Regions from separate parts of the Homo sapiens genome. Here region 2 is linked to region 1. Evidence: fine-mapped expression QTL. Tissue or cell type: tibial artery. Region 1 holds a variant in brackets; the other region holds the start of a gene. All regions are shown on one strand. Distances are between the middles of the regions.

Region 1 (5,187 bases):
CTCTTCTGGAAGGGAGGTAGAGGCTAATCTAGCAATGTCTAGATAGCATGTATTGTTAAAATGTATCAAAGTGTAGCCAGGCGTGGTGGCCCTGTAGTCCCAGCTACTCAGGAGGCTGAGGCAGGATGTCTTGAGCCTGGGAGGCAGAGGTTGCAGTGAGCTGAGATCACCCCACTGTACTCAATAATAAATAAATAATAAATAATATAAAATGCATCAAAGTGAAGAGGGGTACTTGGGGATTTCCAGGTCTAATCCCTTTATTTTACAGAAAGAAACAGAGACTCAAAGCAAAGTAATTCATAAGTGGTGAAGCTGGGGCTAAATCCAAGTCTCCTGCCACTGCGCACTTCAGGGTTAGAGCAGTGCTAGGAGTCCCACCAGGGCCTGGGTGAGAGATTCATTCTTAAAACTGGGCGTGAAGTCTCAGTCACTGAGAATGCTTGGTGCCAGCTCCCATCTCTAAGGACTGCTTTGAGGGAAGGAGTTGAATCCGGCCCCTTCCCCAAACCAGGGTAATGTATCATAGAGCAGAGAGCATACATAATCTTGGGAAGAGGGATAGAAGTGACAAAGATGGGCCAGGCGCAGTGGCTCACGCCTGTAATCCCAACACTTTGAGAGGTCGAGATATGCAGATCGCTTGAGCCCAGGAGTTCGAGACCAGCCTGGGCAACATGGTAAAACCCCGTCTCCACAAAAAATAAAAGATAAAAATTAGCTAGGCATGATGGCACATGTAGGTAGTCCCAACTACTCAGGGGCTGAGGCAGGAGGATCCCTTGAGCCCGGGAGGTTGAGGCTGTAGAAAGCCAAGATCATATCACTGCACTCTATTCTGGGTGACAGAGCAAGACCCTGTCTCAAAAAAAAAAAGGAAGTGACAAAGATACAACCACTTAGCTAGGTGTGCCTGTGGTCCCAGCTACTCAGGAGGCTGAAGTGAGAGGGTCTCTTCAGCCTGGGAATTCAAGGCTGCACTGAGGCATGATCGTGCCGCTGCACTCCAGCCTGGGCAACAGAACCAGACTCTGTCTCAAAAAAAGAAAAAAAAAGATGGAATGACTAACTCTTCTTGGACACTAAAGTTGAGCAGAAGGAACCCCTGGGCAGGAGGGGAAGTGTCACCAAGGGTCCTTCTTCCCAGGCCGCAATAGCCTGGCTTGGAAAGTCAGGCCCTTTGCTTTGTAGCAGGAGGAAGGTGATTCTTGGGACCCAAAACATGCCAGAGAACCTGGCGCCGAGTGTCCCAAGGAGGCTTCGCTTTTGGAACAGGCTTGGTCCTGTCCAGGTAGGCACTTCCTCATGAGTAACCCCTTCCAGCTCTCACAGTGGAGCCACATGCCTGCTGCCCGCTGACGACTTCTTCCCTTGCCCGACCTGTCTGAGCGGGTGGGTGTGAGCAGGTCATATTTACCAGGCCCTGCCCCAGGAGATGGGGAGATAGCACTGACTTCCTCTCTTCTCTTACCCAATCTTCCTCCCACGCCACGCCCAAACACGGCACTCCCCCAAATAGGTCTGTCACGAGCCACCTTGGAATTGTGAGGAGACTGCTGGGAGGAAGGGGCGGCCACCTTCCCCAGCCAGCAGAGAAGGGTCTGACTGCAACACAGATGGCTTCATCGTCACATTGAAAATAACCAAATATGAAAATGTGTTTTATTTCTCAGTACAAAGCCAGATACTGTAAGGCTATGAAAAACTGACTAGCCAGAGGCCAGAAAGGACAAAAAGAAGACTATCTCTGGCCTGGTGCCCTGTGATCTGGCGTGGTGTCACAGGAGGTCTGGGGACAGCAGCAAAGACCTGGACCGGTGGAGGTGGATGAGGGAAGCGATCTGCCAGCCCTTCCAGCCTCCCGCGGCTGGGGCCTGAGGATCCTGCCTGCCTTTGGGGGCCACTGGTTGCCTGGCCTGGCTGGTTCCAGGAATGAACTGGGAGAGGACAGGAGGTGCAGGGAGGGGGCGGGGGTGGGAGGCGTGACCCTTTTTGCACGGGAAGCTCTGTTTTCATTCCGTGCCACAGGTGAGTGTGCAGGGCTAGAGTTGAGAATGAAACTAGGGTGCTGTTGCCCCCAAAGGTACCTTCAGTCCCTCTACCACATCCCAGTTAGAAAGTCTTGAGCCCTTGGACAGGCAGACATGGGCCTGGGACTTAAGGCTGTAGGAGGTGAGGCTGTAGTGACAGGGGTGGGAGGTGAGGCCGTAGTGACAGGGGTGGGAGGTGAGGCTGTAGTGACGGGTATGGGGCGGAGCTGAGAGGAATGTGTGCGGCAACAGACGTGAGGGTGTTTCTCCAAGGAGTTGTGGATCCTCTTCAGTGTCAGGGGAGCGTGGGCATGTGTGAGGGCTCAGGCCTCGCCCTCCTCTCCACTGTCATGCACGCTGGCCTGTCTCACCACCTTCCGGAACCTGGGCGTAGAGGAAATGCAGGGCTCTCCCTGCCCCTGCCCCTGCCCCTGCTCCTGCTCCTGGAAGGCCTGGGTCCGGTTGGCCACCACGGCACTGCCCTGGAGGGTAACCACTGACTGG[C/T]GGGACTTCAGGGCAGGCTGAGGCCCCCTGTCCACCTGCTGGCCTCCCTTGGTCCTTGCAAGCTGTGGGAAGGGCTGCAGAGGCTCTTCATGTGAAGACTCGTGGGAAGAGAAGACCTGGACAGGTGTGAGGATACGGAAGCCATGGGAGGCCTTTCTGGGGCAGGGGTGCCCAAGCACAGAGCCGGGAAGATCTGGGGCAGGGGTGCCAAGCACAGAGCCAGGAGGAGGCGAGGGCCGGAATGTTTGTGGCACGCACGCCAAAAGCCAAGCTGTCCACAGCCACGCTTCCTCGGGAGGGAGGACAACACCCCAGCCCTGCTGCCCCGCTCCTTGAACCCTACCTGCTTGTAGCTTCCTTCTGGCCCCCAGAAGCCCTCCTCAGCTCCCTGGAGACCCAGGCCTCCCTGCCCTCCTCCCCTCCTATGCTTTCTCTGCCTTTGCGTAGGCAGCCGGCAGGTGAAACCCGTGCCGGCACCAGCCCCTGAGCTGGGCTGGGTGGATGCGTGCGTCCGGTGCTGGGTGAGGACCTCTTGCCTTTAGCAACGCCCACACCCGCCCATCAACCCACCACGCCTCCCTATCCTTCCCCACCCACACCTCCTCCAGGAAGCCTCTCCCAAATGTTCCTGCCCTCAGTGGATGCTCCTTCCTCCAAGTCAGCCATTTGGCCTTGAGTCCCAGACAGGGCCTGGCTCCCAGGCTTAGGCTTGTGCCCGCAGCACTGAGCATCAAGGGTGCTGACTTAGGCAGGACTTGGGCGGCGTGAGTGCGCAGACTCCTCCCCACCCCATCCTTTGAGGTGCTGCTCCTCAGACCAGGGAGGGGCTTCAGAGATTAATTTAGCCTCCCCACCATGGGGTTAGAGATCGCCCCCAGGGCCTGCAGGGGCCTGTGGAGCTCATGGCCTGGGGAGGCAGCCCTGCCCCTGAGACAGCTAGTCCTGTGGTCAGGCTGGAACCTGCCCGCGATCGAGGCTGGGGCTGGCTCACCCAGGAGCCTTGGAAACAGGCACTGCTTCCTGCCCTGCCCCCGTGACCCCTCTCCAGCCTGTGCCTACAGTGCCTCCGCCTGCCCTCACTGGATCTCAGCTGCTCTCAGGGGCCCAGGACGTGGCTGGTCCCCATCTTCAGGGGTATTCATGGGACAGGCTGGAGACGCCGGGTGCTAAGAGATACTGGGCTGACTGTGAAGGAGGCTGGGACCAGGCCCCCTGGGTCCTCCCAGGACACCCTGCATGGGCGGGCCAGACTTAGCCCGGGTACGCCCTGCTCAGGTCTACAGTCAAACGCCCATCCTGGTCTTTCCCCATCTCCCTCCTTATGGCCCCCACCCCTGCAAGCTGAGCTCCCCCAGCCCCAGCCTCACCTCTGGCATGTCACTGGTCTCTGAGGTGCTCTCCAGCTCCAAGGAGGGCTCCAGAAGACTGATGGACCTCATGACCCCTCGGAGGTTTATACGTGGCCGTGGCCCAGGCTCTTCTTTCGGGGCTGCCTGGCTCTCTTCCATGCCTACAACCTTCTCCTCCCCACCACCCTCAGGTTCTGGCGGAAGAGGTGGGAATGGTGTAGAGACTTCAGGGGCTGGGTGCTCCTCTGGGGAGACCCCACCCACTTTCTGCTCCCAGACATGGCTCTGGCGGCTGTGAGGAGGTGGCCCTGAGTCAGCTCTGAGTGACCCAGCAGCCACCCCCAGCAAACCCACCTACTCACCCCCTGCCACTCGCTCCCATCCCATACCTGGCCGTCAGGATGCCCTGGTAGATCTGCAGCTGGCGCAGGAAGCCAGGGTTGGGGCGGGCGATGGGCCGGAGCTCCTGCACGTGGCGCAGGGCCTGCTCCAGGCTGCATTCGTACTGCTTCATGGCATAGGCCAGCACTGTGGCCGCTGAGCGGCTGACGCCCATCTTGCAGTGGACCAGCACGTGGGTGCCCTGTGCTCTGTGGAAGCAGGCCAGGTTCAGCACCCTCCCCTCACCATGAAGGATCCCGCCTCCTGCAGGGGAGGGCAGGTGAAGGGCTCACAACCAACTGAGAGTAGAGAAGGAGGGAAGGACACTGAGGGCTGGAAGGAATGGCACAGCTGATGGCAGAGTGGGCAGGAGGAGGGCACCGGAGGCCGCTTGAAGCCACAGTGGGGCAGGCAGCAAAGCCAGGAGACCGACCTTGCAGCCTCAATGAAGCGGTGCGTCTCCTTCCAGTGCGGCAGCAGCTGGGCCGACTCCTCATCCCAGAGGCGCACATTGTGGTAGGTGAAGCGCTCAGGGTAGAAGTTGTCAATCTCCCGGGCCATGTTCAAGATGTGGGTGACCCTGTCCCAGAGGGCCCAAGGCCAGGCTGATGTGGGCAGAGGTACCAGGCCCACTGGCAATCGGACCTGGCAGCCCCTGGGCCTCGCTTTAGCTCTGAGTTTCAAGTCAGATGGAGGCAGCAGTGACAGTGGGAGGAGAAGTGACCCAGCTGTCACCTGGCTGCGACCTTAGACCAATCATCTTGCCCTGCTGGGCTTGTTTCCCCATCTGGTCCAGACAGCTGGGCCAACTGCAACTCCAGCCCTTCAGTTATTCTCAGAAATGAGTTAGAGAACAGCTTTTGAGCTAAGCTGAGAGTGGGTGGGTCTGCAGCAGTGGGTGGCAGGGGCTACAGCAGGTCCCA
Region 2 (5,121 bases), 80 kb before region 1:
CCAGGTAAGGACCTGAGCACATAGCGGGCCATGGGATGTCTTTGAGGTTCACAGAAACTCTGTAGGGAAAATGAAAGAGGTACCTTCTAAAATCAACCCCTTGGGGCCCCAAAGAAGGAAGAGAGAGACCCGGGGCTGAGCTGAGGGCAGGGGTGTGCTCACCGTGCTGGGGCGCGGAGCATGTGGGGGCACGAGGCTGGGTCGAAGACGGCCTGCAGGGACTCACAGTCCTGGAAGGACAGGTTGTGAGTCTTCCGCACCCCTGGATGGGCGATAGGGTCTCAGTGGGCCTCGCCGACCTCCCTGCTGAGGCACCCCTTGGCTGGCCGGCTGCCCACTCACCGAACTTGCAATGCAGCTGGACCACCAGGCGGCTGCTCCGGCCATTCAGGGAGATGCAGCATTTTTCCACCGTCTTCTCCAGCATCGCCAGTGAGCGGAAGACAGACAGGAAAGACTGCATGGGATAAGACACCTCAGCCTAGCATCACATCTCTGCAACAAGCTCTCCTGTCCCATGCAGGCCCACACCCATCATGGGCCCAGCATGTAACTCTGGGAAAAGGGCTCCCACGTCACCTCGGGCACTGGCATCCTTCTAGGCCTCATTCATGCTCTTCCTTATGCTTGGAATGCCTTGAAAGACCTGCTTACCTTTTTTTTTTTTTTTTTTGAGATGGAGTCTCGCTCTGTCACCCAGGCTGGAGTGCAGTGGTGCGATCTCAGCTCACTGCAACCTCCACCTCCCGGATTCAAGCAATTCTCCTGCCTCAGCCTCCCGAGTAGCTGGGATTACAGGCGCGTGCCACCACGCCCAGCTAATTTTTGTATTTTTAGTAGAGACGGGGTTTCGCCATGTTGGCCAGGCTGGTCTCGAACTCCTGACCTCGTGATCCGCCTGCCTCGGCCTCCCAAAGTGCTGGGATTACAGGCGTGAGCCACCGCGCCCGGCCAAAAGACGTGCTTACCTTTCTTGACGAACTTGAGCGTCACCACCCTCTCAGGTCCCCGCTGTGATGCTTTTACCATGGCCCTCCCTGTGTTTTGCATGGATTGGGCTTGCACGTGTCTCTCTCCCCACTTAGCATCTACTGAGTACCCCAGGGCAGAGGCACAGCTGGTGGAGATTCCTGGGGTGGAGTAGTGCCACTGCTGAGGGAAGGGCCTCACCTTCATCAGGATCTTACAGCGCAGCAGGTCCTGACCAGGGGTGGCTGCCTGGTATTGCTGGAAGAAGAGCGGGGCAAAGAGAAAGCAGGCATAGGCAGAGCGGGAGGAGTTCACCGTCCGGAGGGAGAGCTGGGCCACGAAGAGCAGGGAGAGGGACGTGGTCAGGGGGCAGCCACAGACCCAGCCCTCTGGCTGCTTCTGCTCACACACTTGCCCTATCGTCCTCCCGCTCCGCCACCACCTGCTGAAAAACCCTCCTTTCCCCATGGAAGCCTTCAGAGTCGGCCCCGGCGCTGCTGCCGCAGAGGAGGGGTCGCACACCCAGGCCTTCCCCGAGTTTCTCTAAGTGCACGTCACCCCCTGGGAGCTCGCAGGACAGCTTTCCTCAATTCACACACCGGCCTGGGAAGATGACAGCCGCCAGACTAAGAAACTGAAACTTTGCCGACAAATCTGCCAGCGGTCATCCCGCCTAGTGGGGGCGAGACTCTAGTCCGGGTTACCCGCTCCCGGCTGGAGTCCCACCCGCCCCCCACACCCTAGCCCCTCACCCCGTCCTCCAAGGGTTCCAGGTAGAGCTCGTCCCCGATGCGGGACAGGGAGTGGACGGCCTTGCCGAGCACTGCGGGGAGAAGAGCGGAAGGGGGTTAGGCTGGCGGCTCCGCGGCTGCTGCACCGCCGCTGCCAGGCCGACCTGCACTCACCCTTCACGTTGCCGCCCGTGACCAGGCACTTCATGCTGCCCCAGCGCTCCGCCAGCGGCCAACACTGCCCAGCTCTCCGCGACCTCCGGGTCCGGGGTCCCTTCCCGCGCACCGCCCCTGCCGGCCCCGCCCCCGCCTCCCCATTGGTCCACGTGCAGGCGCCTCCGTCACGTGAGAAAAACGCTCACAGGCTCTGCCGTCACGTGACGGCGCACGTTGTCCGGGGTGTCACGTGACCGGGGAGGCCCGCGGCGCCCGCCAGCCAGCTGCTCCTGGCTCCCCCGGCACGCCTCGGCCTTCCGTGCCCCTGGAGATCGGGGCGTTCCGCGGGCCGCGCACCGGATTGCGAAGGTCAGAGAGGACGCAGCTGTGGGGCGCGAGGTCCCTGTGCAGTGGACCGAGTGCTGGACTCGGAGTCGGAGTGTGGGGGCGAGCTCTCTGGGGTCACCCACTTAGTAGAGTTCCCGGGCGTCTGCCGGGGGATACAGGGTGCAAGCAAGACCATCGCACCCACTCTGGGCCTGAGACTCGGACTCCAGCAGCAATCCCCAACTCTAGAAAGAAGTCAAAGCAGCTTGCTTGCAGCAGCCGGGAGTGGGAGGTGGCTGCTCCTTCCGGCTTCGAGGATCCTTTAAGGAAAAACGGCAGTTTCTCCAGGCAGAAAGGGGTAGAACGGTGCCCCTGGCAGAGGGAAGAACAAGAGTAAATGCTCAGCGGTGTGGGCTCCGCCCCCTGGAGAGGGGAGTAGGTCTGTGAGTCTCAGAGAGGCGTAGGGGCCGCCAGATGATGAGGGGCACCGCTGGGACGCTCTGGAAACGTTTTACGAGGGTAGATCGTGGTTATGTGCCTTTTTTTGTTTGTTTGTTTTTTGAGACATATTCTTGCTCTGTCACCCAGGCTGGAGTGCAGTGGCGCGAACACGGCTCACTGCCGCCTGGAACTCCTGGGCTCAAGGGATCCTCCCATCTCAGTCTCCTGAGTATCTGGGACCACAGGCACACCCACCACGCCCGGCCCTTTTTTTTTTTTTTTTTTTTTGGGTAGAGACGGAGTCTTGCCATGTTGCCCAGGCCGGTCTCAACTGTGGGGTTCAAGCTGTCTTTCCGCCTTGGCCTCTCAAAGTGGAGTGAGCTACTGCACCGGCCTGTTTTTTGTTTTTTGTGTGTGTGTGTGGGGTTTTTTTGTTTGTTTGTTTTGAGATAGAGCCTCGCTCTGTCGCCCAGGCTGGAGTACAGTGGCACGATCACGCCTCCCAGGTTCAAGCGATTCTCCTGCTTCAGCCTCCCAAGTAGCTGGGATTACAGGCGCCTGCCACAACGCCTGGCTAATTTTTGTACTTTTAGTAGAGACGGGTTTCACCATGTTGGCCAGGCTGGTCTCGAACTCCTGACCTCAAGTGATCCGCCCGCCTCGGTCTCCCAAAGTGCTGGGATTACAGGCATGGGCCACCGCGCCCAGCCCCGGGTCTGTATTTTTAAAAGACCCCAGACTGGCCGGGTACGGTGGCTTACGCCTGTAATCCTACCACTTTGGGAGGCCGAGGCGGGCGGATCACGAGGTCAAGAGATCCAGACCATTCTGGCCAACATGGTGAAACCCCGTCTCTACTAAAAGTACAAAAAGTAGCCGGGCATGTTGTCACGCGCCTGTAGTCCCAGCTACTCTGGAGGCTGAGGCAGGAGAATTGCTTGAACCCGGAGGCGGAGGTTGCAGTGAGCCGAGATCGCGCCACTGCACTCTAGCCTGGCAACAGAGTGAGACTCCATCTCAAAAAAAAAAACCAGACTGTGTGCCAGGTGGGGATGCATCAGCTGGAAGGTATTCCCCTTCCCCTGGGCTTCCGGGTCCACGTGTGTAAAATGTAAGGGAGTCCTGGAGAAACTCACTGACCCCTACTCTCCCCACAGTACCAAGGCTCTGGTAGTTCTTGGAAGGGCCCAGGGCATCCCTGTATTCCTGCAGGGCCTGCCCGTGCCTTGCCCCTCAGGTCCTGTGGTAGTGCAGAAGATATATTTATCTCTGCCACCCTTGCTCTCCAGACCCACTTTCAAATGAGTTGAATTGATACATAATAATTGTACACATTTGGATACATGCATACACTTTGTTTCTCCCTCTCCTTCCCTTCTGCTCCCCTCGTCACCAGCCCTTGCCCCTTCCGTGGAGCCTTGGGGGAGGAGGTTACTCTTCCCTTCCCCTTCCCGGGGGATCCATGGAAATAGTGCCCCTGTCCCTGGGCATCCGGCTCAGTATGCTGGAGTCATCCTTGACCTCATGCTCGCCCTCACCCCTACACAGTCTTTCAGTTAAGTCCTGACCACTCTGCTTCCCAAACAGGTGGCAACTTAACAGGTGGCAACTTTGCCCTCCTCTTCCATCTCCAAGGCCTAGGCCACCATCCTCTCACCTGGATGACTGTAACAGCTCTCAGTGGTCTCCTGCCTCCACCCTGCCCCCTCCAGGCCACTCTCCATACAGCAGCAAAGTGACCCTCCTAAAATGTCCATTGTGTCATGCCTCTCCCGTGTTTGCACACTCCAGTGGTTGCCATAAAATCCAAACTCTGCCCTGAACCTGCAGGAGCCGCCGCCACCCATTTCTCCACCTGTGGCCTCCCCTTGATCACCTGCACAGCCATGCCAACCCTGTGGGCTCCCTGAACCCTCCACTTCCTTTTCCACCTGGGGATTTTAGCACATCCTTAGCTGTCCCCACCACTTGGCATCGTCTTACCCCTTCTAACGTGGCGGTGCTTCTCTTCCTCCAGGCTCAGTGCCGTCTTTTCTGCCCCCACCAGCATCCCATTACACTCTAGCTAGACCCTGTTTTAGCCACAGCACTTATCACGTTATTTCATGCGTGTGTTTGCCTGTTTAACATCTGTCTTCCTCACTAGTGTGTCTGCCTCACAAGGGCAGGAACCATGTCTGGTTTTTGGTTTTTTGTTTTTTCTGAAGACAGAGTCTTGCTCTGTCGCCCAGGCTGGAGGGCAGTGGCGCGATCTCGGCTCACTGTAACCTCCGCCTCTGGGGTTCAAGCAATTCTTGTGCCTCAGCCTCCCAAGTACCTGGGAATACAGGTGTGTGCCACCACGCCCGGCTAATTCTTGTATTTTTATTAGAGATGGGGTTTTGCCATGTTGGCCAGGCTGGTCTCAAACTCCTGACCTCAACTGATCTGCCCGTCTCAGCCTTCCAAAGTGCTGGGATTACAGGCGTGAGCCACTGCACCCGGCCTTGGCTTTGTT

The links. PIP is the estimated chance that this variant, and not a neighbour inherited with it, causes the effect.
Region 2: it holds the start of RAD9A, and the variant in region 1 is fine-mapped to the expression of RAD9A in tibial artery (GTEx, PIP 0.97).

The regions. Positions count from the first base shown.
Region 1 is chr11:67,309,054-67,314,240 of GRCh38, reverse strand. SSH3 (slingshot protein phosphatase 3) reads right to left here. Exons shown (of 14, transcript NM_017857.4): 11 at 4,698-4,844; 12 at 4,273-4,473; 13 at 3,902-4,175; 14 at 1,649-2,650. The coding sequence ends at 2,354. Among named protein-coding and RNA genes, the nearest start is that of SSH3, 8.1 kb to the right of the region's middle. The variant C/T (reference allele first, on the strand shown) is at 2,535.
Region 2 is chr11:67,388,832-67,393,952 of GRCh38, reverse strand. RAD9A (RAD9 checkpoint clamp component A) reads right to left here and starts at 1,967. Exons shown (of 11, transcript NM_004584.3): 1 at 1,875-1,967; 2 at 1,722-1,792; 3 at 1,171-1,299; 4 at 343-457; 5 at 163-262. The coding sequence starts at 1,908. It overlaps LOC100130987 (a long non-coding RNA gene), which reads right to left. Exons shown (of 4, transcript NR_024469.1): 4 at 2,266-2,555. RefSeq lists enhancers at 1,346-1,850, 1,885-2,800 and a silencer at 1,751-2,120.